2 linked regions of the Homo sapiens genome follow. The protein of the gene in region 1 purifies or fractionates together with the protein of each later gene. This does not show direct contact. Each region holds a gene or a part of one and is shown on either strand. Other genes may lie near its edges.

Region 1 (16,563 bases):
CTATGCCCTATTGCTATTCCCTCCCCAGTTCTAACAGTATGTACCTTCCTGTCTTTAACCAAAAGTGAACAGAAAATGAAATTGTCATCAATTGTTTGACCTGAATTTATTCACAATAATATATTAACACTTCCCAACTCATTTTGACTCTAGAGGATCTGAAGAAACTTTTGATAATTGTACCTGGACAATCTCTAGGAGAGATGCCTGGGAATCCGAAAATTTAACACCTGCCCCGGAGCTTCTGAAAAAGTTTATGAAATCCTGAACAACGCTGTTTTGAATCATGAAGTGCATACTTGAAAGAAAGGGGGGTGAAATCTTGGCTCTGAAAGTGCCTGGGTGATTCTCCAGTAGAATGAATATACTCTAAAACAATGATAAAAAGTACAGTATAGTAAAGACTCACTAGTGGTGTAACAGAAAAAGTACAGTATTTAAAGCCACTTACCCCTGATTCAGATGTCAGATCTACAACATTTAGGCAAGTAACTTAACCCCAGTGAGTCTCTATTTTCAAATCCTCAAAATAGATATATCAATACCTACTTGGAGGGGCTTCTGTGAAAAACAAATAGAAAAACTAATGATAGCACTGACAGGATGCCTGGAATAGACTAGTCTAAAAGTAGAATACTTTTAACAATTCATCTAAGGCTTGAATCTTCCTTCAACATCTTTCATTCTTCTCTGTTCCATTTCTGCTGCCTCTCATCTATTTAGAGGAACTCATCAATTTATTAATTAATGCATTACTATTAATTATTAATTAATGCATTATTGAGATAACAAAGAACATCAACTTAAGAGTACAGTTGAAAGCCAGACTCTGCCACCTGTGGGCTCTCTTATAGCCTCGGACCATCTCTAAGCCTTCAGTTCTCTTATCTGTATGACAAAGTTAAGCTAAAAAAGTCTACCATTTCAAAACAACTTGATACACAATCACCATGTATACTCCCAGCCACTATTGGGTCCACCATAGATAAAGATAAGCTAACTAGATTCTAACCTTCAAAACTCTGGCTTCCCTTTTCTGCTCTTGTCCCCTTACTAGCATTACATTCCTGTTTCAAACATTTCATACCTTCCTGTTTTTAGCCAGCTTCACCAAAATCAGAAACTAACACTGCCATTAATATTTTTTTTATTAACTCTTTCCATCTCATTTAAACCATAGAGGTTCTAACAGTATGTGGATGGAGAGGTAGGCTGATCAGTAGTTAAGTAAGTAGGTAGGTGAATGGGTGAGTAAGTGGATGGATGGATGGAGGGAAGATAAAATTTGGGGTTGGGTAAAGATCCTTTTTGGCAGGAGAATCAAGAGGGCAAGTAAGAAAATAAGACCGGGTGAGAATGGGTGCCTCTTCCAGTAACTTGAAAATAAAAAAATATATAAAGAGTTAAACTATCAAATTATTATTATATCTCAGATCAAAGAAAAACAGAGTCTCCTTGAAGAAAAGCCCCCAAAATATCAAAACTAAGAAAGTAACAATATGAGGATATTTGCATTATTTAAAGAAAGAACATGACAATTCCACGTGGGGAGACAGATGGTCAGCAAAGAAATTCTAAAAGTAAAAAAATAAAAATTAAAAGGATGACAAATATGACAATATTTCAGGTACATTAGAAAGATGATTCCTGTGGAGATAGCTAAGCATATCTAAACATTAGATTCACTGACCTTCTTAATTCTGATTCATGCTCATCAAGAGACTTGAATATGATTTGGCTTACCACATAGGTCTGCCTCGGAAGAGAATGCCTCTCCCCCGTTCTGAAACCTTCAATGGCTCCAGTCCATACTCCTAACTTTGGCATTTAAAATTCTCCACAATAAAACTGCACAAAAATTAACTTTAAGTTTCATTTTTCGCCCACTACTCTTCTACAAGAATATTCTGTTTCAACCAAGCTGGTCTCTACTCAGATATTACTACAAACCCTTTTCTTAGGCTTCCTGCTGTCTCCCTACCCAAGGTTCAAGTTCAGCTCAAATCTACCTGCTTTATAAAGCCTTTCTTGGGTGCACTAGTTTACCACAGTCATGACCCACATCCAATCTTCTAATCTTCTAAAGCATCCTGAATCACCCATATTATTTGATCACATTTAACATGTTTTCTTACTTCACATTTTCCATCTTGCAACTAAAGCCATTGCTCTTCAGTGACAGAGAACCAGCTTAGGATTCTTAGAATTTTTTATATTTACCAAAGTGCCTACTCAATGCTGAGAACAAATAGATGTTCAATAAATAGATGCATAAATAGAATTTACCTTCTTTATATAATGCCTAACCTACTCATATAAGTACAGCTTTATACTTACATCGCATCACTATGATTTTATATAAAGTCTCTTTAAAATATCAATTATATATACATCTGCATGCATATTTATGTAATATACATGTGCAGGCATGTGTGTGTGTGTATAGTCGTGCCACATAATGATGTTTTGGTCAATAACAGACCACATATGCAACGGTGGTCCCATAAGATTACAATGGAGCTGAAACATTCCTATCACCTAATGATGTCATAAGCCATTGTCAATATCCTCACCCAATGCATTACTCACATGCTTGTGGTGATGCTGACGTAAACAAACCTACTGCACTGCCAGTCATAAGAGTACAATCACATACAGTATATAATACTTGATAATAAGTGACTATGTTACTGGCTTATGTATTTACTATACTGTACTTTTTATCATTATTTTAGAGTATATTCCTTCTACTTATAAAAAAAGTTAACTGTAAAACAGCCTCAGGCAGGTCATTCAGGAGATATTCAAGAGGAAGGCGTTATTATCATAGGAGATGACAGCTCCATGCATATTACTGCCCCTGACAACTTTCCAGTGGGACAAGATGTGGAGGTGGAAAACAGTGATATTGATGATCCTGACCTTGTATAGCCATAGGCTAATGTGTGTGTTTGTGTCTTAGTTTTTAACAAACAGTTTAAAAACAAACAGAAGAAACAACTTTTTTTAAATTAAAAAAAGTGCACAGAATAAGGAGGTAACAAAAGAAACTATTTTTGTACAGTTGCATGATGTGTTTTAAGCTGTTACTATAAAAAAGCCAAAAAGGTTTTAAAAATGTTTAAGTTTATAAAGAAGTTACAGTAAGTTAAGGTCAATTTATTATTAACAAAATGAAAATATTTTTTATAAATTTGGTGTAGCCTAAGTATGCAGTGTTTATAAACTCTACAATAGGGGACAGTAATGTCTTAGGCTTTCATGTTCACTCACCACTCACTGACTCACCCAGATCAACTTCCAGTCCTATAAGCTCCATTCAGGGTAAGTGCCCAAAACAGGTGTATGGTTTTTTATCTTTTATATCGTGTTTTTACCTACTTTCCCTATGTTTAGATATACATACACTTACAATTGTGTTACAGTTGCCTATAGTATTCAGTACAGTAACATGCTGTACAGGCTTGTAGCCTAAGAGCAATAGGCTATAGCATATGGCATAGGTGTATACTACTTATACAATTGCACCTACACAATCTAGTTTTATGTAAATATACTCTATGATGTTCACACAACAACAAAATCACCTAATAATGCATTTCTCAGAACGTGTCCTCATTGTTAAGCAATGCATGACTGTATACATACATATATATACAAACACATACATATGTATATACACACAGGTATACATATATACACAAACATAGCTACAGTCTGCAATTTTTCTATCACTTAGCTCTTTGCTACTGATATGCTTTTTATTGGTTCTTACCTGGTTATAATGGGATCTGCAGCGTGATTTGGGCCCCATCGCCCCAAAAGCCCCCGGCCCACCAGTCCAGTCCGTCCTGCAGGATTTCTGGAAAAACAAAAAAAGCATAAAATCAATTGAATGTGTTCATCTTTTTAACCTGATTTGATATAACCCAAAAGAAGAGAACATAAGCAGTAAGACAGAATAAGTCCTTACAAATCCAATGGAACTATCACATATCTGGTGCTGAAGTCATGTATTTCATGACACTGCTATTTAATTTTTCTTTTGCGCATGTGATATGCTTTAAACTTGATCCAGAAAGAGGCTCTCATACCCCAAGTGGTTCTACAATGTGATGATTTGTTTCAGTTTTCACCTATACTCCTAAATTCAAACTGGAACGTTCCTGGTTTCTTCTGGAACACCTAGATCTCTCTTCACTTTCTCATTATTCTCATTTCCTACTCTACTCTCCTACAACCCTTCCTATTAAAATTGTCCCTGTTACATTAAATCCCTTTTTCCTCAATGGTTTCTGGATTTTTATTATCAATAATATATATTTGTAGCATATGATAAGGTATTAGTATTACTATTTCATAGATTTCAAGTAGACTAAAATACAATTTTATAAAAATGCCAACTATTTAACCTGATGCCACAATCCAGTGTTAAAAATTTGTCAGAGAAACCTATCAATACTCATGCCTGTGTCATTTTATTTCAGTAAACATTCTTTAAATGTTCAACTTTCATTATGTACTACTAAAATGTTCTAACATGTAATTCTACTTCATGGTGCTGTATCTCTTGCCCTCCCACTATATGAAAGTAAATAAACAACTTGCCAAAATTTCCCTTTTTGCCATCTCTTTTTATTCTTTTTTCCCAGTGACTGTTATTAAAATTGAATGAATTTTTATATTGTTTTTGTACTAGACTCAGAAATATTTCAGCAAGACTTGCAAATAGCAACAGAAAGAAGAGACAAGACACCTGCCCAGCTGACAATAATTCTTTCCAAATTCACAGGAGGAGGGGCAGAGTGGCCAGCAACCATATATATATATACATATTTTTTTTTTGAGACAGAGTCTCACTCTGTCACCCACGCTGGAGTGCGGTGGCATGATCTCAGCTCACTGCAACCTCCGTCTCCCGGGTTCAAGCAATTCTCCTGCCTCAGCCTCCTGAGTAGCTGGGATTACAGGCATGCACCACCACGCCCAGCTAATTTTCGCATTTTTAGTAGAGACAGGGTTTCACCATGTTGGTCAGGCTGGTCTCAAACTCCTGACCTCACGATCCACCCGCCTCAGCCTCCCAAAGTGCTGGGATTACAGGCGTGAGCCACCATGCCCGGCCTGCAACCATATTTTATTCCATGTAACCACACACCCCTGAACACAAGTGATCAAGGCCACCATAAAGAGACAGATTAGTTTGTATAGATGACCAAGACCATAACTTGGAAACAGGAAACTGGAATGGACACACAGACTATATTAAAACCTGAAAAGCACAGATGGTTATTCGCAAAGAGAGAGTAATAAGCCAAAAATATAGACAAAAGCATAAATGAAGCAGAGAGAGAGTCCTGATGGATTTCGAATTCCATCTTTTCCTCAAGTTAGCTGCATTTTTGCTTTGAGCTCCTTGAGACATTCCTATAGCATAGCCTTAAAATAAATTTTACTTTTGCTCAGGCAAGCTAAAGTTAGTTTCTATTAGTCAAAGAGACTTCATTAAAAGAACAATCTATCTTGCATTTCCATCTATATATCTTACCTATCTTTTCATAATATTTTTATAATTGTATCTATAAAAGAACCTAAGGAATCAGTCAAATGCAAGGAGAATTTGACTTAAAAAGACTCAATAACATAGAAAGGTGAATAAGTTATGACCAAAGAAAGAACTTAGCAAAACTGAAGGACCAGGTTGAGATGAGAGGAGTACTACCATTTCCTTGTCTTACAGGAACCAAGAATACAAAGTGTAACATTTTTATAAGATGATAACCATGATTTCAAATCTGTGATCCTTCTTTGGTTTTATTTGGTACATGCTAATTTTTACACTTCTTTCTAACTTTTTAATATGATTTGGCTCTGTGACTCCACCCAAATCTCACCTCAAATTTTAATTCTCGAAAATTGAGGGCAGAACCTGGTGGGAGGTGACTGGATCATGGGGGACGGTTTCTCCATGCTGTTCTCATGATAGTGAGTGAGTTCTCATGAGAGCTGATGGTTTTTTTGTTGTTTGTTTTTTTGAGATGGAGTCTCACTCTGTTGCCCAGGCTGGAGTGCAGCGGCACAATCCTGGCTCACTCCAACCTCCGCCTCCTGGGTTCAAGCGATTCTCCTGCCTCAGCCTCCCGAGTAGCTGGAATTACAGGTACCCGCCACCAAGCCCAGCTAATTTTTGTATTTTTAGTAGAGACAGGGTTCTGCCATATTGGCCAGGCTGGTCTTCAACTCCTGATCTCAGGTGATCCACCCGCCTTGGCCTCCCAAAGTGCTGGGATTACAGGTGTGAGCCACTGTGCCTGGCCAATCTGATGGTTTTATAAGGGGCTCTTCCCCCTTTACTTATTCACTCTCTGTCACCTGTTGCCATGTAAGATGTACCTTTGCTTCTCTCTTGCCTTCCACCATGACAGTAGGTTTCCTGAGGCCTCCCCAGCCATGCAGAACTGTAAGTTAATTAAACTTCTTTCCCTTATACATTACCCAGTCTTGGGTATGTCTATTTTTTTTTTTGAGATGGAGTCTCGCTCTGTCGCCCAGGCTGGAGTGCAGTGGCGCAATCTCAGCCCACCGCAACCTCCGCCTCCCGGTTCAAGCAATTCTCCTCCCTCAGCCTCCCGAGTAGCTGGGATTACAGGTGCCCGCCACCACGCCTGGCTAAATTTTTTATCTTTAGTAAAGATGGGGTTTCTCCATGTTGGTCAGGCTGGTCTTAAACTCCTGACCTTAGGGGATCCGCCCACCTCAGCCTCCCAAAGTGCTGGGATTACAGGCGTGAGCCACTGCGCCCGGCCAGGTATGTCTGTATAGCACTGTGAGAACAGGCTGATACACTTTTATAATATCTTAAGGAAAATGGATAATTTTTGAGTTGTATAGGAAAATCATTTTTTAAAAAGTATAGAAAGACCCGAATTATTGGGTTATCTTTATTTTTACTCTTACATGTTTGGATAAATTCTTACTTTAAGATACTATACCATTTAATAAATATCTGCTGAACAATTTTTCTTTCTGTTAATGTATTCAATTATTTCTGTTTCCAAGATACAATTACAAAAAGATGCATTCAAACGCTGCCTCTGCCACTTACTAGCTGTATACAAATTGCTTACACTCTCTTCCCTTATCTGTAAAATTCAATTAAAAATATCCACCAACAGGGTTATTGTGCAGATTTAATTACATCACATATGTAAATAAATTTGTACAACATCTGGCACATACAAGGATTTGATAAATATGAACTATCTTTTCTACTTTTTGGTGACTCATTATTGTAAGATGCTCTGCTCCCAGTACCTACCTCGGTCTTCCATTTTCAATCTCATACAGGCCATTCTTGCTCTTTCTCTCAACATGCCCATCCTTTTCGTTAAACTTGGGAGAAAAATTACTTTCACTGTAATGAGAATACCAATGTAAAATAAGAAATAATGATTCAAAACTACCAACAGCTTAATAATGAAAGTCAATCTGTTATCCATAAGAAGTATTCCTGAAACAATAAATTTTTAAGGGTTAGTTTTTTTTTTTTTTTCACAAATCCATCTTATTCCTTCAAAACAATTTTTAAGGCAAAAAAAAGTTTTAACCAAAACACCACACATTACAAAGATATATATTATTATTAAACTTACTAACCCCTCCAGGAAGGACTACCAGCAGAAGAGCTAGAGCTCCTACCTCATGCTACAAGAAGGTCTATTAGCAAGAAGGAATTGTTTGTGGGCACAATATGAAAACTATTTGCTCCCATGTAATTCCAAAAATAAGATTCCTTCTGATGATGTTTCTACTATTTCAAAATAATTTAAATTTCTTCAAATGCACACTGATTAATATTCTTATCAGAGTAAACCCACAAAGCAGTGAATTTGCCCCACAAGCTGCATAATAAATATGATGTAAATTAAAAACAGACATACTATGCTGGAAATGTTCTAGATCTTGATCTGGGCAGTGGTTTACAGAGCTATGTAAATGTAAAATTTTGCTGAGCTGCACACCTTCACATGTAAGAAATGTGCACTTTACAGCCAGGCATGGTGGCTCACGCCTGTAATCCCAGCACTTTGGGAGGCCAAGGTGGGCAGATCACAAGGTCAGGAGATCAAGACCATCCTGGCTAACATGGTGGAACCCCATCTCTACTAAAAAAATACAAAAAATTAGCTGGGCATGGTGGTGGGCACCTGTAGCCCCAGCTACTCGGGAGGCTGAGGCAGGAGAATGGCGTGAACCCAGGAGGTGGAGCTTCCAGTGAGCCGAGATGGCGCCACTGCACTCCAGCCTGGGCGACAGAGCGAGACTCCATCTCGAAAAATAAATAAATAAAATAAAAATAAAGAAATGTGCACTTTACTATATTTGTATCATGCCACAAAAAAAATTATTTTTTCTTTCTTTCTTTTTTTTTTTTTTTTTTTGAGATGGAGTCTCGTTCTGTCACCCAGGCTGGAATGCTGTAGCATTATCTTGGTTCACTGCAACCTCTAACACCCAGATTCAAGCGACTCTCCTGCCTCAGCCTGCTGAGTAGCTGGGACTACAGGAACATGCCACTATACCCAGCTAATTTTTTATATTTTTGGTATACACAGGGTTTCATCATGTTTGCCAAGCTGGTCTCAAACTCCTGACCTCAAGTGATCCGCCTGCCTCGGCCTCCCAAAGTGCTGGGATTACAGGCGTGAGCCACTGTGCCTGGCCCAACAAAAACATTTTTAAACAGACATAACTAAACTACTCTCCTCACCACTATAAAATCCCTGCCATAATTGCACTGACAGTGAATAAAGAGTTACATAGCACTGGATAGTTCATGGGCAGTTCTGAAACAGGTTTCACTTTTTTCTTGCTTTAATTCCATTGAGTGAGCAAAGAAATATCTGTGGTCTGTTTGGGAATAATTTCCAATTTCAATGATCCATACATTTTCTTAAGACTTCTAGCCAATCTGCCATCTAACATGCAAATAAAAAGAATTAAATGATAAAAACCATGAAATTATAAAACCAGAGCTGCAATGCCCTTGGGACTCTAGAGATTCACCCTTTTAAAAAAATCACCAGGCGTGCCGGCTCATGCCTGTAATCCCAGCACTTTGAGAGGCCAAGGCAGAAGGATCACCTGAGCTCAGGAGTTCGAGACCAGACTGGATGATACAGTGAGAACTCTTCTCTGCTAAAAATTTAAAAGTTAGCCAGGCATGGTGGCACACACCTGTAGTCCCACCTGCTCAGGAGGCTGAAGTGGGAGGATCACTTGAGCCCAGGAGATCAAGGCTGCAGTGAGCTATGATCACACCACTGCACTCCACCCTGGGTTAGAAAAGGAACATAAAGGGATGGGAAAAATGGGGAGATGATGGTCAAAGGGTACAAAGTTTCAGTTATGCAAAATGAGTAAGTTCTAGAGATCTAATGCACAGTGTGGTGACTACAGTTAATAATACTGTTCTTGTCCAGCCTGGACAATACAGTGAGACCCCATCTCTACTTAAAAATAAAATAAAATTAGCCAAGTATGGTGGAACATGCCCATAGTCCTAGCTACTCAGGTGGCTGAGGCAGGAGAATCACCTGAGCCCAGGAGTTCAAGGTTGGAGCAAGCTGTGATCACATCACTGTACTCCAGCCTGGGTGACAGAGAGAGAGAGCACCAGTCTCAAAAATAGTAATAATACAGTATTGTATACTTGAAACTCGCTGAGAGTGGATCTCAACTCTTCTCACTACACACACAAAAAAGGTAACCATGTAAGATTATTTTAAATGGCTTGATTGTTGTAATCACTTCACAATGTATATGTATGTCAAAATATCACATTGTACACCTTAAATATATATAGTTACTTGTCAATCATATATCAATAAAGCTGGAAAATAAAAAAGAAACATAAACATAAAATGTTAATCAATGCGGCACTTCTATGAATTTAGTGAGAGCCCCTTCTCTCTCATTCTCCCCCTCTCACTCCCCTTTATCCAACCCTTTTCTATTTTTTCACACTGGTTTATCATCATCCTGTTCTTAGTAACCTGGAGAATTTTCCGAAAAATATTTTCACAAGTCTAGCTATGTTGGAAAATAACCACAAAGGATATTCTATTGATAACCCAAATAGAACACATGAAAACAAATACCATCAGCTGTTATTTCAAAACAAATATAACAGTACCAGCTGTTATTTCATAACACATAGCTGATGCTATTTGTTATTTCAAATCAAAACAGATTTAACTATTTGGAAGTATCCTCATAAAACCCCCAAAAGAATAAACAAATATGAACTGTTTATCTTTGGCAAGAATTCAAGCAAATGTGGAAACTGAGTTATAACACAGCTAAGCATAGATTGAAATTATTTTCAGGTGTCAAAAAGATACTTTACAAATAAAACCATTACCTTCTCTAAAAGTCTTATTCCCAGCTAACGCTGTCTTATTTGCTCACCTGATCTGAGGATCTGCCCACCTGGGTCCAGCCAAGACAGAGACTGCAGTGTATTCCACAGGCTTATAGTCTTGCCACTCAACAAGCCAGCCCACTTTCTCATTAGGAACCTGGCTTCGTTCAACTTTTGAACCTGGGTAAGGAGACGTCCGAGCCTTATTGTGAGAATTTTCTTTGGAACCATTAGAACCAGACATGACGTTGGTATTAAGATGAAACCAAGAAGATGAAAACGAGTTTCTGGGGGAGAAAAAGAAAAACATTTTACATAAATACCAAAAATATATTAATTAAAGAACCTAGGCCGGGTGCAGTGGCTTACGCCTGTAATCCCAGCACTTTGTGAGGCCGAGGTAGGTGGATCACCTGAGGTTAGGGGTTCAAGACCAGCCTGACCAACATGGTGAAATGCCGTCTCTACTAAAAATACAAAATTAGTGGCATATGCCTGTAATCCCAGCTACTTGGGAGGCTGAGGCAAGAGAATCACTTGAACCCAGAAGGCAGAGGTTGCAGTGAGACATCGCGCCATTGCACTCCAACCTGGGCAACAGGAGTGAAAACTCCATCTCAAAAAAAAAGCAAAAAAAAAAAGAACCTAATTCAAAGACCCAAAAACATACTTTCCAATTTCAAAAACCTTTAAGAATCAGAAAATTCAAATATGATGCATATTAGTCTAAAGGTCCAACATCTATGAGAGATTATTTTCAAATATACATTTTTTTAACATATAGCTAAATCTTATTAGCTGGAACCCACTCACTGAATTTATTTTAGACAAAAAAAAAAAAAAAAGGACACAAACTTACTTGTGTGTTATCTGTTGTGGAAGGGGAAGTTTGTTATGAAAACTCAAACCATAAAAACAAGTGTAGGCCAGGTGTGGTGGCTCATATCTGTAATCCCAGCACTTTGGGAGGCTAAGGAGGGCAGATCACTTGAGGTCAGGAGTTCGAGACCAGCCTGCTCAACATGGTGAAACCCTGTCTCTACTAAAAGATACAAAAATTAGCCAGGTGTGGTGAATCCCAGCTACTCGGGAGGCTGGGGCAGGAGAATTGCTTGAACCCAGGAGGCGGAGGTTGCAGTGAGCCGAGATTGTGGCACTGCACTCCAGCCTGGGCGACAGAGCGAGACTCCATCTCAAAAAATATATATACATATAAAAGAAAACTGTTTAAAGTCTACGTAAAGGAATATATTTTTTAAAAATCATCTATAGTCTAACATACACATAAAACGTATGGCAAAAATGGTTCAAAGGAAAAACAGGAAAATAGAAATTATTGAAAAATTTTTTACACTGAAAATGAACTAATGTAATATAATTTGAAGGTAGACTGTGGTAAATATACAAATTGTAACCTTTAGAGCAAAATTTAAATAAAATATACAGGCATGAAATAACTGGATAGCATATGCAAAAGAAAAACCAACTAACCTTCACCCTAACCACACAGCATATACAAAAATTTTTCATATCTCATCTTGCCTAAAAAGTTAAATGACTTCTAATTATTCTTAAAATACGAATTCTTGATGACCTTAAATTAGGACATCTCAAGTGGGAAAGGAGATTCTGAGGACATGGTAAAATTATGATAGCTCCTTTCCCCTGCTCTCACAATACCAGTCAATTTGCCCTTCTTAAGACAAATGATTGACGGGGCAAATATCCACTTGACCAAGGTTGTGGACTAAGTCAACAGCATGTGCCTCCTGATCTCATACAGTGAGAAGCATGCAACAGTCATTTGAGGTATTTCTCCCAAAAATATATGACATGAATCTGAACATTAGGAAACACAAGACAGACCCAGGTTAAGAGACATCTTACAGAATAAAGGTGTGTACTCTCTAAATTGGTAAGGTCATGAAAGATAGAGAAAGGTGCAGGAACTCTTCCAGATAGATTAAGACTAAAAAGACATGACAATTAGAAGCAATCAATGATCTTGGATGGGCTGATGACCATAAAGGAAAAAATAAACATTGCAGGATAGGTAGTAAAGTTTGGATGGGGTTGTATAAATAATTTTAAAAGGTGAATTTTTTTAAAGTATCTATTTACTCCCAACAAAGAAAAACCCAGGACCAGATGGCTTTACTGATAAATTCTACCAAACATTTAAAGAAGAATCAACACCAATATTCCCTCAACTCTTCCAAAAACGTGAAGAGGAAGTAAACACTTCCAAACTCACTCTGAGGCCAGCATTATCCTGATACTAAAGCTTGACAAAGACACTATAAAAAAACTACAAACCATTATCTTTGATTAATACTGATGTGAAAATCCTCAACAAAATAATAACAAACAGAATTCAACAGCACATGAAAAGGATTATATGCCATGACCAAGGGAGACATTCTTGGAATCCAATGATGGTTCTATATAATGAAAATCAATCAACATAATGTATCACATTAACAAAATAAAAAAAAAAAACACAATCTTCTTGATTGATGCAGAAAAATTATCTAACAAAATTCAGCACCCTTTCACGATTTAAGAATATTCAACAAACTAGGAATAGAAGGAAATTACCTCAACATAATAAAGGCCATATATGAAAAGCCCACAGCTAATGGTGTGAAGGTGAAAGACTGGAAGTTTTTCCTCTAAGATCAGGAACAAGACAAGGATGTTCACTTTAATCAATATAATACTGGAAGTTCAGCCAGAGCAATTAGGAAAGAAATAGAAGTTCTAGCCAGAACAATTAGGAAAGAAAAAAAAAGGAAAAGGTATCCACATTGGAAAGGAAGAAGTAAAACTGGTTGAGCATCCCTAATCCAAAAATCCAAAATCAGAAATTTTTTGAGTGCTGATATGATGCCACAAATAGAAAATTCCACACCTGGCTTCATGTGATGGGTCACAACCAAAACTGTTTCAGGCACAAGTTTAAAATACTGTATAAAAGTATCTCCAGGCTACCTGTTTAAAGTATATATAAAACATAAATGAATTTTGTGTTTAGACTTGAGTCCCATCTCCAAGACATCTCATTATGTGTATGTGAATATTCCAAAACCTGAAATCCAAACCGCTCTGGTCTCAAGCATTTTAGATAAGGGATACTCAACCTGTATTTACACATCGCATGATGTTTTATGTAGAAAACCCAAGATAATTCATGAAAAAACTGTTAGAACTAATAAATGAATTCAGCAAAGTTGCAAGGTATGAATCAACACACAAAAATGGTTACATTAAAAAACACTAACATGCTGGGTGCACTGGCTCATGCCTGTAATCTCAGCACTTCAGAAGGCAGAGGCTAGTGGATCACCTGAGGTCAGCAGTTCAAGACCAGCCCGGCCAACATGGCGAAACCCTGTCTCTACTAAAAATACAAAAATTAGCCGGGCATGGTGATGTGTGCCTGTAATCCCAGCTACTCGAGAAGCTGAGGCAGGAGAATCACTTAAACCCCAGAGGCGGAGGTTGCAGTAAGCCGAGATCAAGGCTCCATCTCAAAAACAAACAAACAAACAAAGCACTAATAATTAACAATCCAAAAGGAACATTAAGAAAATTCTACTTACAATAGCATAGAAAAGAATAAAATACTTAGGAATAAACTTAAGGAAGCAAAACTCTTATACACTGAACACTACAAACTATTGCTAAAAGAAATTAAAGACACCAATAAATAAAAAGACATCCTATGTTCATTGACTGGAAAAAAATATTAAGATGTCAATACTACTCAAAGTTATCCGCAGATTCAATGCAATCTCTGTCAAAATCCCAATGATGTTTTTCCAGAAAGAGAAAACTCTACCTTAAAATTCATATGGAATCTCAAGGAACCCCAAATAGCCAAGACAATCTTGAAAGGGAGAAACAAGTTCAAGGTCTCACACTTACTACACAGCTATAGTAATCACAACACTGAGATACTGGCATACAGAAAGACATATAGACTAGTGGAATAGAAGTAGAACCCAGAAATAAATCCTCACAATAATTTTTGACAAAGGTACCAAGACCATTTCAACAGGGAAAGGGCAGTCTTTTCAACAAATGGTGCTAGGAAAATTGGATATTCACATGCAAAAGTAGTATGAAGTTTGACCCTTACCTTTCACCATATAAAAACATTAATTAAAAGTGGGTCAAAGACCTAAACATAAGACCTAAAATGATCAAAATCTTAGAGGAACACATGCTGACAAAATTTCACGACACTGGATTTGGTGATGATTTTCTGGATATGACACCAAAAGTACAAGCAACAAGAGAAAAAATTGGTAAGCTGGACTATATATTACATCAAGATGAAAAACTTCTGGGTATCAAAAGACACAATCAAGAGAGAAAAAGCAACCCATGGAACAGGAAAAGATACTTGGTAATCACATGTCTGATAAGGGGTTGGTTATATCCAGAATATAGAAAGAACTCCTACACACAACAACAACAAAACAACCCAATTTAAAAACGGGCAAAGGACTCCAATAGACATTTCTCCAAAGAAGATATACAAATGGCCAATAAGCACATGGAAAGATGCTCAATACCACTAATTATTAGACAAAAGCAAGTCAAAACCACAATGAGATACTACCTCAGACCCATTAGAATGACCACTATCAAAAAAACAATACAGAAAATAAGTATTGGCAAGGATGTGGAGAAATTTACTTGCAATAAAAAAAATGACATCAAACAATTTGTATTTCTGTAAGGCATTGCTGAAAAAAGATTCAGTAAAGTCCTATAATATGGTACTATTTTTATAAAGCAATGACATAAAAAATAAATAAGCACATTTCAGTGCATGTATATAATGTATTAGTTTTCTACTGAAGCCACAACAAATCACCACAAATTCAATGACTTAAGACAATAAAAATTCATTGTCTTACAGTTTTGTAGGTTAGAAGTCCAACACAGGTCTCACTCAGCTAAAGACAATTTATCAGCAGGGCTGCATTCCTCTCTGGAGGCTCAAGAGAAAAATCCATTTGCCATACTTTCCCAGCTTCTAGAGGGAATCCTCATTCCACCTGCATTCTGTGGCTCATGGCCCCCTTCCATCATCTTCAAAGCCAGCAACATAGAAATCTCTCTGACCATGTATTAGTAATCATATCTTTGATCACGGCCAGGCCATTTTTTAAGGACTCTCAATTAAATCAGGCGCACCTTCCAGGATGCTCTCCCCATCTCAAAGTCCTTAACCTTAACCACCTCTGCACTCTCTTTTGCTATGTAAGGCAACATATACACAGGTTCCAGGTATCAGGATGTGGACATACTTGGGGGGCCATTATTCTGCTTACCACAACTGTCTATACTATTTATTATATAAGCATATATAGAAGGAGCCATATAATCAGGTTCTTAATATGGGCTAGGAAATAAGGTGCTGATGTGAAGAGAAGTAGAGGCAAACAGAAAGAGGGAAAAGAAAGGAAGGAGAACGAAAAGGAAAGGGAGGGGGAAAGGGGAGTACAGGAGAGAAGAAAAAGGAGATGAGGGGGAAAGAAGAGACAGTGGCAAAGATGGGGGGGAAACGGGGAGAGAGAAAAGGAGAAAAGGAAAGGGAGTTGCAAGAAAGGATAAGAAAAAAAGAACAAGAAAGAAAAACAAATTTAAAAAGGATAAGAAAACTGAAGGAAAAGGAAACAAGGAAAAAAAGAGAAGGAAAAAAGACTACCCAAATTTACCAAATAAAGTGAGGTATGCCTGATCAAATTTATGCAATTAGGGCAAATTACATAATTATATATATATAAAAAGAAACTTCTCAGTGGGGCACAGTGGCTCACGTCTGTAATCCCAACACTTTGGGAGGCCAAGGCAGGGGGACTGCTTGAAGCTAGGAGTTCAAGACCACCCTAGGTGAGACAGTGAGACCCTTATCTCTACAAAAAATTTTAAAAGTTAGTCAGGCATGGTGGTATGTGCCTGTAGTTGCCGCTACTCAGGAAGCTGAGGTGGGAGGATCTCCTGAGTCCAGGAGGTCAAGGCTGCAGTGAACCATGATCACGCCACTGCACTCCAGCCTGGGCAACATAGTGAGATCCTGACTCATTAAAAAAATAAGAAACCTTTTTAATTAAAATTCTTAACCT
Region 2 (17,113 bases), on another chromosome or scaffold:
CAATACTGCTGTTGTCTTAGTCATCCAAGTTTGAGGTTCTTCGTGACTCCTTCCTCTTTGTCTTAACCAGTCTCCACATTCTTTCAGTCATCCTCAGACTGACCTCATCTCTCTTTCCACTGCGACAACTCTGGTTCAGAGAATATCCGCTCACCATGGTATTACAGGCTCCCATTTGGACTTTTTGCCCACTCTACCGTGTCCCCCTTTTCTGTCTCCATCCATTGTACAGATAATAAGCCTTCCTAAAACATTAGTTTCTTCCTTGTTTCAAAATGTACAGTAGTTCCCAATCAAGTCTAAACCCCTTAGCCTGACATTCAAGATCTGGTAAAATCTGATTGTACCTTACAAACTTTTTCTTAGTCTGCTGAAGTCAGACAAGCTCCTCACCGTTTCCTTGGGATTTTATAATCTTATTTGGAAAATGAAGCATCCTAAGAAATTCCATTCAAATAAAGTTCTAATTAACTTGAGGTTTCTCAGTGTTTCTGTTTAGTGACTAGTTAAAAAGCACTAATACCATTTTTCTGTTGTTAAATTTGAGAGTTATAATCTCAAACACATAAAATTTCTTGTCTGGTTTTTCTCATAGGCACTTACAACAGAGTGCCTTTACACAAACCTACGGATTGGCAGAAAAAGATCCTCATATGGTCAGGTCGCTTCAAAAAGGAAGATGAAATCCCAGAGACTGTCTCGTGAGTGCTGAATTTAGTATTACAAGCAGCTTTCATTTCTCACTGATCTAAGGGAAAAGCAATGCCTCTGAGTTCCAACTGTTTAAAACTTTTCAACCAAATTTGAAAACATTTTTCACTTTTCCAAATGTTTTATCTTTGGTAAGTACTTGGAATATAAACAATGCTAGAAAACCTGTGTCTTATCATTGTTAAGTTACACAGTGACTGGTGAAGAACTGTCAGGTACTCTGAAGTCAATTGATTATTTGATTTCATCCCCTGGCTACAGAAGTGTGACTTTTTTAAAGTTTGTTTTTAATCTAGGTATATAAATTAAGTACCATTGACAATGACTGTATTCCCCCAAATCCACTTAAGTACTCAACCTTAGGTGTAAAAGTATTTAATTGCAATATTCTGGAATTCAGGAAAGAGTGCTTCCTGTCACCAACTTCCTTAAACCTAAGGGAAGGGATCTTGGCTGGGATCATGGAACTTTTTCAGAGTTTGTAGATGATGAGTGCAGGTTCCTCCAACCCAGTTTCTCAACTCAGTACTATTGATATTTGGGGCTTGATAATGCTTTGTGGCAGGGGGGTGTCCTATTTGTTGGAAGATGTTTGGCAGCATCCCCGGCTTCTGCCCCCTACATGCCCGTAGCATTGCGGCAGTGCTGACAACCAGAAATGTCTCCAGACACTGCCAAATGTCCAAGGGGCACGAGCGGGGTGGGAATCTCCCCTGGTTGAGAACCAGTGCCCTAGCCTCATGTTAAAGACCCTGACTGGCTGGCATCTTGGCTAAAAAGAGATTCTGAGAAATAGATGTCATCTCCTCTGTGAGGCATCATCCTATTCAGGGACAGGGACTTCAGACAAAGCTCGTGGAAGTTCCCTGTCAGCAAGAAACTATTCCTGGATCTTCTGGTCTCTGGTTTCAAGTCATGATTGAAAAAGATCTGAGCTCATTCAGGATTTCTTTCCCAGGGAAATATGTAGTATTTACTTTCTGTTTACAACAGCTTTAATAGAGCTTTTCTGCTTCTGCCAGTCAAATTGATAGCACATTACTTTAACTAGAATTATTTCAGCAGGAAAGCCCTGGTTTTTCTTAGCTCAAGTCATGTATTCTTCTGGGAAATAAGAGAATACTGGAAATAACAGTGACATCAGGTTCTTGCCTATGCCCTAATTCTTCCTATACCAGCAGAAAATAAGCTGGTAGACACCCATGGCCTTAACAGATGCTGTATAGGCTTTGCTATAGAACACCTTCCTCAGTCTGCCTAATAGTTGGTTCCAAGATCCCCTCAGGCCCAAAATACTACCTCACGAATCACTCTGGAAGGGTCTTTTCTGGGCCTGGGCAGCCATTTGTCCTTGTGCTGGTAGTTCTGAACAGGCACTGCTTAACTTGCCCATTCCTATTACTCCCTATGGAATGGATTACTTTTCATGAGGATCATGGCACTTCAAATCCCATAAAATACCGTCAACATGGGAAGTCAGTTTGTGGTTAGTGGAATCTCAGGTGCTCCTAACTGACCAATTTGACAGTCCTTAGCAGTTGTCTTGGGTTCCTGCCAGCCTGCAGGCCCAGCTTAAGTGCCTGGAGAACCCCGTCCACATGCTGCCTCACAGGTCCCAGCTCCTACATCACATTGTACATGGCTTCATCATCTTCCTCCTTCCACCTGCAACATCCCAGACTCTTTGCCTCCTTCCAAGCATTTTTAAAGTACTCCCCTCCCCAATTTTAAAAGTAATATATGTTAAATATCTCAGGGGAAAGAAAGCACTTCAATCCCATCATCTAGAGATAATCACTTCCTATTTACACATCTACTGAGAAGGCCATAAGTTAATCCTGGGCCCCATAAGGGCTCCACATCCCCTGCCTTGAGGTTCTGCCAGACACCGAGGTAACAGAATCGTGACCACCAGGTGTGGCAATGCATGCCTATAGCCCCGGCTGCTCAGGAGGCTGAGGCAGGAGGATCGCTTCAGTCTAAGATTTTGAGTCAGCAACATGGTGAGACCCCATCTCTTTAAATAAAGTAAATTAAAAATAGAACCATGACTCACTGCCTACTTGCAAAATCACCAAGGTAGATTGGCCTTTAGACTCTTCTATATTAAGCCTCTTAGGTTTCACACAAGAATGATGAACCAACCATCAACTTTTTTTTAAGGCACATGGGTCTGTATTCAGTAGATAGGTTAGAAGAGCTGCACTTTGGCACTTGCCAAAGACCACAATATCAAGTTCACTGTCACTCAATTTTAGCAAAACATTTGTTTAAAAAGATAAATATTGAGGAGCATTGCTTAAAGGATCTTCCTACTATTTTAGATATTCTCAAATCTATTCTGGGTTCAAGACAGAGAGCAAAAAGCTGGGTATATGGAGCACATTGGTTAACTTTCTCCAATGTTTGATCATTCTGAATTGTGCTTTGTGTTGAAACATATGAAGCTTATTGTAGTATCTGTTGTCGAGATGTTTTCAGACGATGACTACATCACATAATGTCTTCTTAAGAACCTCAGGGAGAAATGACTGTTTCACTTCTAGCATTTATAGGCTGCTTGGAAACCTGAGAGCCAAAATTGGGGTCCACCATAGCAAGTGTAGATTAATATGCCTTGCCCATTTTTTTTTTTTGGCTTTGTTCTTGACTTCTCTTTTTGTTTTCTTCTTTTGTACTTAATTGTGTGCTATCCTGTATTTTATACATAAATGAGTTACGAAAAATGCCTCATCCTCCCCAAAGTCCTATGAGATCTCTAGGCCCTTTTTAAAGAGATCTCTAGGTCTCCCTATTTATATTTATAGACACTACTACATTTTGAATTTATACACAGCCTTTTATCCTGAGCAACTTCAGAAAGGGAAAAGTTAATAACTTTCTCTCATGATCTCATTGTATTACTAGGTTGGAGATGCTTGATGCTGCAAAGAACAAGATGCGAGTGAAGATCAGCTATCTAATGATTGCCCTGACGGTGGTAGGATGCATCTTCATGGTTATTGAGGGCAAGAAGGTGAGAAGGGGTTTCTTCTCTATCCAGTATGTATGTTCTCCACCAAGAACCTAGAGTAAATCAGGGATTGACCCTTGTATTTACCCTCTGAGAAGAGGAGGCTACTTTCTACATTACATGAGAAAAGATAAGCAAAAAAATAAGACATATTGGGAACAAGCCTGGAATATCATCCTTGGGGATAGATAGCAAATCCTAACTTTGGCGTGGTGAAGAAGGACTAGATTCATTTTGTGTAATGTAAATTTAAAAAGTGTTTCTGATGACAGGTGTCATAATGTAAATTAAGAAATAGGACACTGGCATATTTAATCACCCACTGCATATTTCCAGAGTGCTCTTGGTACCCAAGTGTATTTACCCTCACCATAACTGCCTTCAGCATGGTGAGCTTTCTTAGCGGGGTTCTTTATTTGAAGCTCAGCCAGACAGGGCCATGTGTCTAAGGACCACAGCTCCTAAGCAGTACATAGGAATACAAGTCCAGAAATCTTTAGCACAGATTATAATTAATAGCTATCACTAATTGAACACTCACTGCATTCCAGGTACTTTTCTAGCTGGTATCTCATCTGAACCTCACAAAAACACTGTAAGATAAGTATTATTAGGACCTGATTTATAGATGAGGAAAACTATAGCTTAGAAAGCTTTAGTAACTTGCCCAAGGCCACATATCTCCTTAATGACGAGCCACAGTGTGAACCTAGACCCAATTCAGGTAATAGGAAAATTCCTCCCATTTATTGAGTGCTTATTATGTAACAGGCACTGTTAAGCTCACTTAATCACCCCCATAACCCTAAGAGGTAAATAGTTTTCCCAAACTCACACAGCTAACAAGTGGCAAGATAAAAATCTAGACCCAAGTTTGCAGGTTACCAAACCTCATACTATACTATCTTGCTATTAAGCCATAGTTATTTTTATATTCAGCAGCTTTGGTCAAATTCTTCTTTTAATACCATGTATAATTCTATATATCACAGCTTCCATGTGGAAAGTGATGTCTTACAACTACTTTAAGATACTAAAAAGGTCCTTCTATACACGCACTCTTAACTGACTTTCTTATCCTCAGTAATTCCAGAGTAAAAGGAAATGTACTTTTGGCTGTCTTCATTCTTGCAGTTAAATGGAAATACTGACCATTTTAGGCTGACCTCATGGGAGTACGAAGGGGCAAATGTGCTGAGCTGGGTGAAGTTCTCTTGAAAACTCTGTTCCCACCCCACTTCATTTTTTCTTGTCTCCCTCTTTGACCTCTCATGCATAGTTCTCAGATTAAAACCAGCAGAAACATGTGGACAGGACTGTGAGCTTCTAGGATTCTGAGAAATTTGCATTGCTTTTGTATACTCGATTGTACTAGCTGAGTTTAAATACTCCAGAAGCAAATTATTCACCTGGAATCTCTTCTAGCATCATCCAGGGGTATATGCTGTGTATTTTAGAGAGTTCTTCTCCTGTTCTTTACCATAAAATTGTAACATTTTAGTTTTATGGAATTTCTGTTTCCATAAATACTACTGGAATGGAGAACTTTTGAACTCAATGTGATTTGGAAGAGAAAAATTAGCCATTGTATATTTTGCTCTCACCATCAACTTCCCTTTCTCCCCCCGCTCCCCCACCCCCCGCCACATACCCAATTCTTTTACATATGAAATTACACAGATAGAAGGAAATATCAGCTTAGGGTGCTAGTTTCACTATTTGGTATAAAAGTGTTGAAACTGGCCTGTATGTAAGCTTCATAGAAATCTGACCGTTTACATGGAGGGAAACAAGGGAAGAGGACGGTTGCCTCCCCCACTCAAAGGTTGGAATTGTAGTACAGATACTCGTGGAAATCATCAATGGTAGTATTTGGGTAAAGTCTGGGATTCCCAAAGCTGAATGTTTTTGGTAAAAGAGAAGTGAGGAACTAGAAGGATCTGAGTATGCAGATAAGTTGGGGAAGGAGAAATGGCAGCAACAGAGAAAAGTGAAAGAAGAAAAACGGGATAGAAATGGCAATGAGAAGGTATTTAGTATAAAAGAGAAGTGGGGTGGAATGAGAAGAAAGTATAAGAGAAAAGGAGAGGATAAAGACTGAAAGAAAGGGGCCAGAAGGGAAGAAAAAGGAGAGGTGTGGCACTTCTTACTTATGCTTGAGTGGATGAGCTGCTGTTCTTGGAAGCGTACGAGGAAGTTGAAGCACATAGAGGAAACTGCCGTGCTCAGTGTGCAAGCAGCAGAGGACTCCATGCCTCCATGCCTCTGTTAACCTGCTGTCATCAGTGCAAGGTAAAGACACCCTCCCCTGACCAGCATACAAATCACCTGTTCAAATCTGTTTTGCTTTAGGCTGCCCAAAGACACGAGACTTTAACAAGCTTGAACTTAGAAAAGAAAGCTCGTCTGAAAGAGGAAGCAGCTATGAAGGCCAAAACAGAGTAGCAGAGGTATCCGTGTTGGCTGGATTTTGAAAATCCAGGAATTATGTTATAACGTGCCTGTATTAAAAAGGATGTGGTATGAGGATCCATTTCATAAAGTATGATTTGCCCAAACCTGTACCATTTCCGTATTTCTGCTGTAGAAGTAGAAATAAATTTTCTTAAATAATGACTGTGTTTTATTGTTTTGATCCAAGTCAAGTGTAGCCTCTCAGCCTTTTGGAGAAAAATGAAACAATTTATTTCAACTTGAATACCAACTCTTCAGAGAAGCAGGTACCATATCTTACTTCTCTTCCCATTATCAAAGTAACCTCTCCACAGGCGAACTCATTTTGAGGAGATAAGGAAGGCCAGTTGAGTATATGGCCCAGGTGCAGCTTGGAGGGCCAGCCTTCTCAAATGTCCTGGTGTACTGGTGGGGAGGCTGCCCCCTAATAGAGCGAGCGCTGAGAAGCAGCCAGACCACATTCTATAATCTTTGAACATGCTGGCAGATGGAGGCTTTTAGGAGAATAGTTTTTTAAACATTCTGACAAGGTCCAGCCAGGAATTTCTAAGGACTTAGAAATCCCAGCGTCATGGAGTTGCTTGGGGTCAACACAAGTCACCTCTTAGCTTCATGCCTTAGAATTCTCAACTGGCTGTTTTCTTACCACCTGAGAAACTAAATTTCTCAATTATAAAAATCTCATGTATTATTACTGTTAGAAGTATTTGCACCTCATATATATCTCATTTACAGTTTGACCTTGGGATATCGAGTTGTCTCATATTTAGGTATGAATACAGGTTTCTATTTTAAACATTGATTCTCACATGCTTCTTAATTATTCATGGATGACAAGCCATTATAGTAGTCCCTTCTTATCCACGGCTTTGTTTTCTGTGGTTTCAGTTACCTGAGGTCTGAAAATATTAAATGGAAAATTCCTATAACAATGCATAAGTTATAGATTACATACCATTCAGTGTAGCATGATGAAATCTCTTGCCAATCTGTTCCATCCACCTGGGATGTGAATCATCCCTCTCTCTGGTGTATTCACACTGTATGTGCTAGCCGTCTCTGTTACGAGATCAGCTGTCGTGGAATCAGTGCTAGTGTTCAGGTAACTCTTATTTAATAATTGCCTCAAAGTGCATTGTGCTGTGCCTAATTTATAAAATAAACGGTATCATAGGTATGTATGTATACGAAAAACATAGTATATGCAGGGTTGGGTACTATCCACAGTTTCAGGCATCTACTGGGGGGTCTTGGAATATATCCCCAGAGGGTAAGGGGTGACTACTGTATACAGCCATGCCAACATGCTGGTTCTCAGAGAGTTATAAGAGAGATTAAAAATACATGCAGCTGTTTGGGCACTTTCTTCCCAAATAAAATACCCAGTAAAATGTAACATACTACCTATAGCTTGATAATCTATCTGAGGATGTTTATGATGTCTGTCTATATACTTTAATTTGGCCTTAGCTTCTTTGTAGGTATCAAGTTATCACTTGCAAATTTATTTTCAAAAAGCATAGTTTCTTGTACATTTTAGAAGATTAGTTTTTCTTATTTTGGGACACCTACACCAATGTTTTAAATGTGGATAAATTTTAATGTGGAATTTCTTTTAAAAATAATCCTCTTCATAGAGCAATACAACAAAAATGTGTTGTATCTTGGAGATTTACATTATAAATGTAGTAACATTTATGAGCTTAAATTTAATGAAACCTTTTTTTTTTTTTTGAGACAGTCTTGCACTGTCGCCCAGGCTAGAGTGCAGGGCATGATCTCAGCTCACTGCAACCTCCGTCTCCCGGGTTCAAGCAATTCTCGTGCCTCAGCCTCCTCAGTAACTGGCATTATAGGTGTGCACCACCACACCTGGCTAATTTTTGTATTTTTCATAAAGACGGGGGTTTCACCATGTTGGCCAGGCTGGTCTCAAACTCCTGACCTCAGGTGATCAGCCTCCCTCGGCCTCCCAAAGTGCTGGGATTACAGGCATGAGCCATGGTGCCTGGCCAAACGTTTTTATTACAAATATTACATTAAACTAAAGCTCACAACTGTTATTATGCATCAGGAATTAACAGTCATTTCTCATTTGTGTTATTCTCCTATTTGATAACATATAGTGACTATCTCTTTATGGGTTAAATATCAGTTTCTTGGCCAGAATTCAAGATCTGCCCCTAACTAATCCTACTTCTCCCAGTACCCTTACAGCACTCCTACCCTACTAGTAACTCTGATATCTCATAGTCCTCAGATTTATCAAGCAAACGAAACTGAATGAGCACTACTATAAGGTACCACAAACTACAAAAGGAGACAGTTTTGCCCTTGTTGCTTTCAGTTAAATTATTGTGCTATTTTTTGCTTAATTTCTAGGTTTTTTTTGCGTGTTTATCATGTCTCCGTAGGTAAAGTGGGCAGAAATCTTTTTCTACTTTACATTTCCTGTAAGTGCTGTTTGTTTGAATAAAGTTAATGTGTGAGGTTACGGTTACTTTTTATTTTTAATCAACATGATAGTTTTGGGAATTTATTACTAAAATTTATCAAAGCAGGCAAGGAATGAAGTTGTATCCTTCACTGTCAAACATTACTTGAGTCCCTTTACTACACAAAAAAGCCAAAGAATACAAGAATACAGAGACATACTTCCTGATTCCACAGAACTCATAATCTGGAAGCACAGCCCATGAAAGCATTTCAGTACAAACTGGTAAATAATAGGGACAGGAAAACCTAACTAACTCAGCTGTCAGCTGTGGTTGCAGGCAGGCCGGCAGTGGATGGTTCCTTCAGTGATTTCTGAACTGAGTTTGAAGCATGGGCAGGAATTAGTAGGTCAGACACAGAACAAAAGAAGAGCAGTCTTCATCAGACATTTAGCTTGCCTGAAAATCACAAGCACAATCTAAAAAGGTAGTGAAAGGTCCTTGAGAAACACCATTTATAATGTTGTTTTGGTTTTTGAAATTTTTAGACTCTTAGAATGAACCTAACCTTGGCGTATTTTTCCGGTTTTTTTCTATGGACCATTTCATATCCCATCACACAGAATATTACCAAAAGTGTGCAGGTAGCATCTGCCATGTCTCTCCAGTCCTCCACCAGCATCCCAGGCTTATGCACTTGTTCATCTGATCTCCCAAACCAGAAACCCTGGAATTATTTCAAATTCCCTTGCTCCCCTCTTTTAATCAATCATCCTGTCCTGTCAACTTTACTTCTAAATATTTCTCAAATACACTGATCCTCTAGGATAGTCACTGAGAGGAATGAGAAATTGTCCAGTGACAGACAAATGAAATTATTAATAGGCCTCAAGATTAGAAGTCAGTTTTCAAAGAAGACATACAAGTGGCCAACAAACACACACAAAAAAATGCTCAACATCACTAATCATCAGAGGAATACAAAATATAACCACAATGAGATACTCTCTTAAACCAGTTAGAATGGCTATTATTAAAAAGTCAAAAAATGGCTGGGTACAGTGGCTCATGCCTGTAATCCCAGCACTTTGGGAGGCCGAGGCAGGTGGATCACTTGAGGCCAGGAGTTCAAGACCAGCCTCGAACATGGTGAAACCCTGTCTCTACTAAAAATAGAAACATTAGCCAGGCATGGTGGCACGCCTGTAATCCTAGCTACCTGGGATGTTGAGACATGAGAACTGCTTGAACCCGGGAGGCAGAGGTTGCAGTGAGCCAAGATTGTGCCACTGCACTCCAGCCTGGGCACCAGAGACTCTGTCTCAAAAAGAATCATGGCAAAGATGCAGAGTAAAGGCACAGCTTATACACTGTGGGGAGGAATGTACATTTTACAACCTCTGGAAAACAGTATGGAGATTTTCCAACTAAAAACTACCATTCGATCCAGCAATCCCACTAGTAGGTATCTACCCAAAGGAAATTATATTTTAAAATCACCTGCACTGTTTATCGCAGCACTATTCATAATAGTGCTGTTTATCGCAGCACTATTCGTAATAGCAAAGTTATGGAACCAACCTAAGGGTCCATCAAGAGATGACTGGATAAAGAAAATGTGGTGTATATACTTATATACATATCCAGATGACTGGATAATGTGGTGTATATACTTATATACATACACATACACATATATGCATACACACACACACATACACACCACAGAATACTACTCAGCCAAAAAAAAATAATGAAATCTTATCTTTTGCAACAACATGGATGGACCTGGAGGCCATTAAGTGAAGTAATGATACAGAAAGTCAAAAACCACATGTTCTCGTAAGTGGGAGATAAACAATGTGTACACCTGGACGTGGAGAGCAGAATCATAGACACTAGAGCCTTCAAAGGTGGGAGTGGGGTGAGAGATGGGAAAGTATTTACTAGGTACAATGTATACTATTTGGGTGAGGGTATACTAAGCCCAGATTTCACCACTATGCAATATATCCCTGTAATAAAAGTGACATAAATCCATAAAAATTACAAAAAGTTGCTCAAAAAAGATTGGTAGTCAGAAGCTGAATTCTAGATGTGCTTTTTCAACTATCTCATTTTGTAAATGTAGTGTATGAATCTCAAAATTTAACAATAGACAATTTTTAAAATACCAAACTGCCAAAATTAAAAGAAACCGTCTTTTTAAATATCCAAGTTTTTTGGCCAACTTGGCTCTACTACTTGATTTTCAAAGGGATTAGTGGTTACTCATCCACAGTTTAATTGTTTTGTCATTTTCTAATGCTGCTGATGCGATGAGGTTTTCTGTAGGATGACAAGCTGCTGAGATCACAACATCTGTATGGCCTTGTAATTTCTGCACAATCTCTTTAGTCTGAAGGTTCCAAATGTAAACCAGGTTATCCTCGGAACCAGACACAATCCACTTTCCACCAGTAACTGAAAAATTGGCAAATATGCAATATTTCTCATTCTTATGACCAGTGTATGTTTTCAGGCACCTGCCTCTGCTATAATCCCATAGTTTAAGAGTGTTGTCCAAAGTTGCAGTGAGAATGTATTTACCATTTGGAGAAAATTTTACAAAAGAGACAGGAGGGTTATCGTCATCAACGAGCGTTTTTAAACACTGACCTGATGCAGCATCCCAGATTCTACAGAGGCCATCATAGCTACCTGACACTATCAAGGACCCACTACAATTAAAATGAACAGCAGAAACTGGGTCAGAATGAGCAGACAAAGTCTTGAGACACTTTCCTGTTTTCACCTCCCATATTTTTACAGTCTCATCAAAAGATCCCGAGATTATAAGGTTGGATGGCGGATTGAAGTTACAACAAAAGACATAATTACTGTGCCCCTTCAGTGTTTTCAAACATTTTCCAGATCTCACATCCCATAATTTTAGAGTTTTATCATCTGAGGCAGAAACAAGACGACTGGAATCTGATGACCAGGCAACATCCGATATTTCCAAATTATGACCATAGAGTGTTTTCTCATATTTTCCATCATATGCTCCCCAAATTATGATTAGCCTATCAGCAGAAGAACTTGCTAGCCATTCTCCATTAGGACTAAACTTAACTGATGACACTGCTTCCGTGTGTCCCACAAGAGTACATTTGAGAGCATAGTTTGGGTTTTCAGGCACTTCCTTGCTCTGATTGGCCGATGAGGAGAGGGCCAACTGTGCTTTGGCGTCTCTTGACTCCTTGGTTGCCATGGCTCTGAAGCTCCAAGTTAGCAGGTGTACTAGGCGTTCAGCCCTGAACCAGGCAGTCCAGTACTTTGGCTTTCTGCCCAGCAAAATGAAGATAAACGCACAGGATTTTAAAATGTACAGTTTTGAAAGCTTAAAGTTTCTGGACAGTCTTTAAACTGTGAGACGGAATCAGCAGCACGGCTTGGACTTCAAGTTTTCATCTTTTTGTTAAGTACTTGAGAAATACTGTTAGAAGGATCCTGTGCGCTGTCAGCAAGTAGGACACAAATGTTCGGCATTCCGTTAATACATAAAGCCTTCAAAGCAGGGGCGACGCGAGGGGCACTCTCTACAGAAAGTATTCTTTCACCGCCGCCCCCCTCCCCAGGTCGAAATGTTTCGGAATGCTGAGCAGCCCTACCAGTCAGGCTAGGTACTTGAAGATGAATGAACCGCCGCTTTTAGCGGATTTCAGAAGCTAAAAGCCTACGAAGCCACCGAAACTGGAAACTCTGGCCTGTCGGCTACTTTTGCTCGTACCAGCAGGTGTGCACTGCCGCGTCAATCTCCAACAAAGCCGGAAAAGCAGCCTGGCGCATGTGCAAAGGAAGTCCCTCCTACCACTACCGAGCCGAGATGACCAATGGGAGACGGCCATCTGCGCCTGCGCAAAAAAGTCGCCAATGTTCATTTCCGGTCTTTTTCGCCCCGCCCTTCAAATGCGAAAGCGACTGCCTTCTTGGGTGAGTGCATTAGCTGGGTAGGGTCTGTCCCGGACCTAACTGGATAGTGTGGGAAGCAGTGGATCGTTGTTTCAAAAACCATTTCTTTTTGGAAATTGTCACAGAGAAGGACTAGATTTGCGGATGCCTACCTTAGCTGCAGGCTTAGGCCCACACCTGACGCGTAAGCTGCCTAAACGGCAGCTAACGTAGATCCACCCAGACGCCGGAAACGGGGGAAGCTCCTGCTTTGCATGGGTTCCGCTCCCTCCTGTTTGTTGTGGTGTGGAGCCAGGTGGCATGTGTGGCGATGGAGTCACGGGGCGGGTGACAGAATTTATGCCAGATTGTAAAATTCCTGGTTTAAGTTTCCCCTGGAAAAGTTTCGTAAAGGTTAAGAAACGTGTCTGTTGAGGTCCTTTAAAAGCCGGTGCTCTGCTGGGAGTAACGAGCAAACGTTTGTTTTAGCATCTACGGCTTAAGCTTCCATAGAGAAGTCGGTATCTCAAAGTTGCTTGAAACAGAAAAGGACAAAGAGGTTGGTGGAATAGGGTAACGGATAAGGTTACTCTTAAGGAGGTTTTAGAGAGCTTTCCCCAGTTTTAGGAGATGATTAATGGTCATGAAAGTGTGTAAAATATACATGCTATTGAAGTTGCAACGAAAGACATAATTACTGTGCCCCTTTAGTGTTTTCAAACATTTTCCAGATCTCACATCCTATAATTTTAGAGTTTTATCATCTGAGGCAGAAACAAGACGACTGGAATCTGATGACCAGGCAGACTTTTAAACAATAGGTTTACCAAAAAACTGGAAGCCCTACTAGTTTCTCCAACCTGTTGTTGCTCAGTAAAGAGTGCCCGAGGCCGAGCACTCACGCCTGTAATCCCAGCACTTTGGGAGGCCCAGTCGGGCGGGACACTTTAGGTCGGGTGTCCGAGACCAGCCTGACCAACATGGCGCAACCAATACTGCTAAAAATACAAAAATTAGCTGCGCGTGATGGCGCACGCCTGTAGTCCCAGCTACTCAGGAGGCTGAGGTGGGAGAATGGCATGAACCAGGAGGTGGAGGGTGCAGTAAGCTGAGATTCCACCAGTGCACTCCAGCCTGGGCAACAGTGAGACTCCGTCTCAAAAAAAAAAAAAAAAAGAGTGCCCAAGAAAAGCAGAAAAAACGTGGCTTAAAAGATTTTACTGGTGGCTGGTCACGATGCAAATGTCTCATCAGCGTCAAGAATTTAAAAGCACTTGGAAACAATGGGTATCCTATTGTATACTTATTAGGGATAATTGAAAGTCTTGGCCTTTATAAGGCACAACAGGCACCGTTAGGTCACCTGTAATAAACCGACTGTAGTTAAAATATCATTACTTTAAGACCCTACCAGTCTAGGGGGAAATTTAAATAAGAATTGGACAAATACTTTAGTCTTAGCTAGTGCATATTAACTGTATAAACACAGTGAGGTAGTCCTGAGAATGAAGACTCTAAAATGGTTTAGAGTATTTATTTCTATACATTAAATTACAACGGTTTTTAGCTATTAAGGTCTCCATGGACCTCCCCTTGTTAACACTTTTAGAAATTTTTTTTCCTTCAGCATATCTTAAAGTTCAGTTCTAACTAAACCCTGCTGCTGCTTTTCTCTTCCCATTAGCCTGGATTAGTGATTTTTGCTGAGAAGTTTAGAAACTGCACCAATTGAAAACTATTTCCATTTTTATTAACTCAATAAAAGGTAACGTAAAAGCCCCTTGGAGCACAGGAGCAGAATTTAATCATTGTTTCAAATAATTTAAATCTGCATTTTCCAGTAACTGTTGTATGCACTAGAAGAGTAAAATTTAAGAATCGTGAACACTTGACATGAAGGCTAGGATAGGGTATTAGTGCTGGAATATATTTAGCCCACCACAGCTATCACAAGCAAGAGAGAGGGGGGGACACAATAAAGGATGTGTTGATAGGAAGATCCGGAAGTTATTTTTCTTCAGATTTTCCTAAAATCTGAAGAAATTCCTATTAACAAAATCCATTTCTTGATGTCTGGGATTTGTTTACAAATAGCATTAGGAACATATGCAAACAAAATCAAGGCTATGAATATAACTAGTTTTTTTTTTTTTTGAGACAGAGTTTCGCTCTTGTTGCCCAGGCTGGAGTGCAGTGGCGCGATCTCAGCTCACTGCAATCTCCATCTCCCTGGTTCAAGCGATTCTCCTGCCTCAGCCTCCCGGGTAACTGGGATTACAGGCATGCGCCACCATGCCCGGCTAATTTTGTATTTTTAGTAGAGTCAGGGTTTCTCCATGTTGGCCAGGCTGGTCTTGAACTCCCGACCTCAGGTGATCCGCCCGCCTCGGCCTCCCAAAGTGCTGGGATTACAAGCGTGAGCCACCGCGCCTGGCGAATATAACTAGTTATGTTCTATTGTTTATTCATTCATGTTCTGATATTAACATGTAGTCCTAACATTGTAGTCCTTAGGAAATTAGAACTAAGATTTTCAGTTTACTTGCTTGGGAGGATCAGCGACATTTCGGTGCAGGAGCACGGAATACTGATACAGGTAAATCCGAAGTGGCAGAACAGAGATTTGCATTTTGGGTTCCTTATTTATTCATTTATGAGACGGAGTTTTGCTGAATACTGATACATGTAGGTAAATCCAAAGTGGCAGAATAAGAGATACGCATTTTGGGTTTCTTATTTACTTATTAATTTATTTATGAGACGGAGTTTTGCCCTTGTCGCCCAGGCTGGAGTGCAGTGGTGCCATCTCAGTTCACTGCAGCGTTGCCAGGGCTCAGGCGATCCTCCCACCTCAGCCTCCCACAGGCACCCGCCACCATGCCCGGCTACTTTTTAAAATACCTTGTTGGCTGGGCACTATGGCTCACGCCTGTAATCCCAGCACTTTGCGAGGCCGAGGCGGGTGGATCACCTGAGGTCAGGAGTTCTAGACCAGCCTGGCCAACATGGTGAAGCCCCTTCTCAACTAAAAATACAAAAATTAGCCGGGCGTGGTGGCAGGCGCCTGTAATCCCAGCTACTCAGGGGGCTGAGGCAGGAGAATCGCTTGAACCCAGGAGGCGGAGGTTGCAGTGAGCCGAGATTGTGCCATCACACTCTAGCCTGAGGGACAAGAGCGAGACTTCATCTCAAAAAAAAAAAAAACAACAACAACCCTTTGTAGAGACAGAGTTTCACTACATTGCCCGGGTTGACCAAGCAAAATTTCTTACATGGTCTCATTAACAGTTTCTATTTCTGCTGCCCTTAATCTTTACCATCTAAGTGCTTTGGAAGTTTCCTCCCTACAGAAATCAACTAGATTTCTTTAAATTTCCCAGACATCTTAGAAATGAAGGCCGGGCGCGGTGGCTCACGCCTGTAATCCCAGCACTTTGGGAGGCCGAGGCGGGTGGATCATGAGGTCAAGAGATCGAGACCATCCTGGCTAACAAGGTGAAACCCCGTCTCTACTAAAAATACAAAAAATTAGCCGGGCGCGGTGGCGGGCGCCTGTAGTCCCAGCTACTCGGGAGGCTGAGGCAGGAGAATGGCGTGAACCCGGGAAGCGGAGCTTGCAGTGAGCCGAGATTGCGCCACTGCAGTCCGCAGTCCGGCCTGGGCGACAGAGCGAGACTCCGTCTCAAAAAAAAAAAAAAAAAAAAAAAAAAAAAAGAAATGAAAGTCTCTTATCTTAATATAGTTTAAAGGTGTGTTTCCCTTGCCCCTCAGTATTGTAAATATCTAAACAGATGTGTTGCCACAAATGGGGCAATTTTTAAATTTAAAAACAATTTTTTTTTTGTATGTGTGCTGGACCAAACCGTGGCATGGGAGTGATTCCCACATTAAGGAATGTCTCAACATCCTTCATAGCAATTCTTGACTACCAAATCCAGTCTCAATATCAAGCATTAATAGAACTATGTATACCTAGTTGCTTAAGACCATTAGCCAATGTATGAAAATCTAGTTGGGCTTTATAAATATGGAGTGGCCACGTAACATTATCTAAACTGGGACATTTTTAAAAGTGAAAGGGGGCAGTAAAATAATTCACAGGTGTTAGCTGATCTCCAAATGTAAACTGGGGCTGTGCCCAGCAGACACTACTTTTGACTTCCCAAGAGGACACTCCTCATAATCGTAACTTAATCTTGCAACCATTTCACACTCTGGTAGTTTACACCTCAGCCTGCGCAGGTCTCTCCCAAACCTGGTACTGTTCTCTCACCACCCATTACGGTCTTTTGCGTTTCTGTTTTCTCCTTACCCATCACTGTATCTTAATAATGCCCAGCCCAAGTGATGGGTAAAGCAGTGATCCTTATTGAGGACTCCCAGCGGACTACATTGGCCTTCTGCAGGTTAAGTGGATATGAATAAGAATGAGTAATTTTACTTTCTGCAAAAAAACACAGAAATGACTGTATATTAATTTAAAATTAGAGAAAACAATGACTCCTTCAAAATGCAAGTGAAATGGGGCAACAATCATTCAAGCTATCTTTAATAAACTTGTAAACCC

What was found.
Region 2: the proteins of NUDT9 (region 1) and WDR5B purify together in Homo sapiens (affinity purification with mass spectrometry; 2 studies listed by BioGRID and IntAct, with this or other methods). This does not show direct contact.

What each region holds. Positions count from the first base shown.
Region 1 is NC_000004.12:87,429,128-87,445,690, reverse strand, and holds part of NUDT9 (ADP-ribose pyrophosphatase, mitochondrial isoform a precursor), read right to left. Parts: intron 10,711-16,563; coding exon 10,471-10,710; intron 7,415-10,470; coding exon 7,319-7,414; intron 3,863-7,318; coding exon 3,776-3,862; intron 370-3,775; exon of another isoform or gene 184-369; intron 1-183.
Region 2 is NC_000003.12:122,403,663-122,420,775, forward strand, and holds WDR5B (WD repeat-containing protein 5B), read right to left. Parts: upstream 12,401-17,113; 5' UTR 11,867-12,400; coding exon 10,874-11,866; 3' UTR 8,184-10,873; downstream 1-8,183. Other genes in the region: protein FAM162A, read left to right, coding at 596-701, 3,619-3,727, 6,077-6,169. UniProt on the Homo sapiens protein: May function as a substrate receptor for CUL4-DDB1 ubiquitin E3 ligase complex.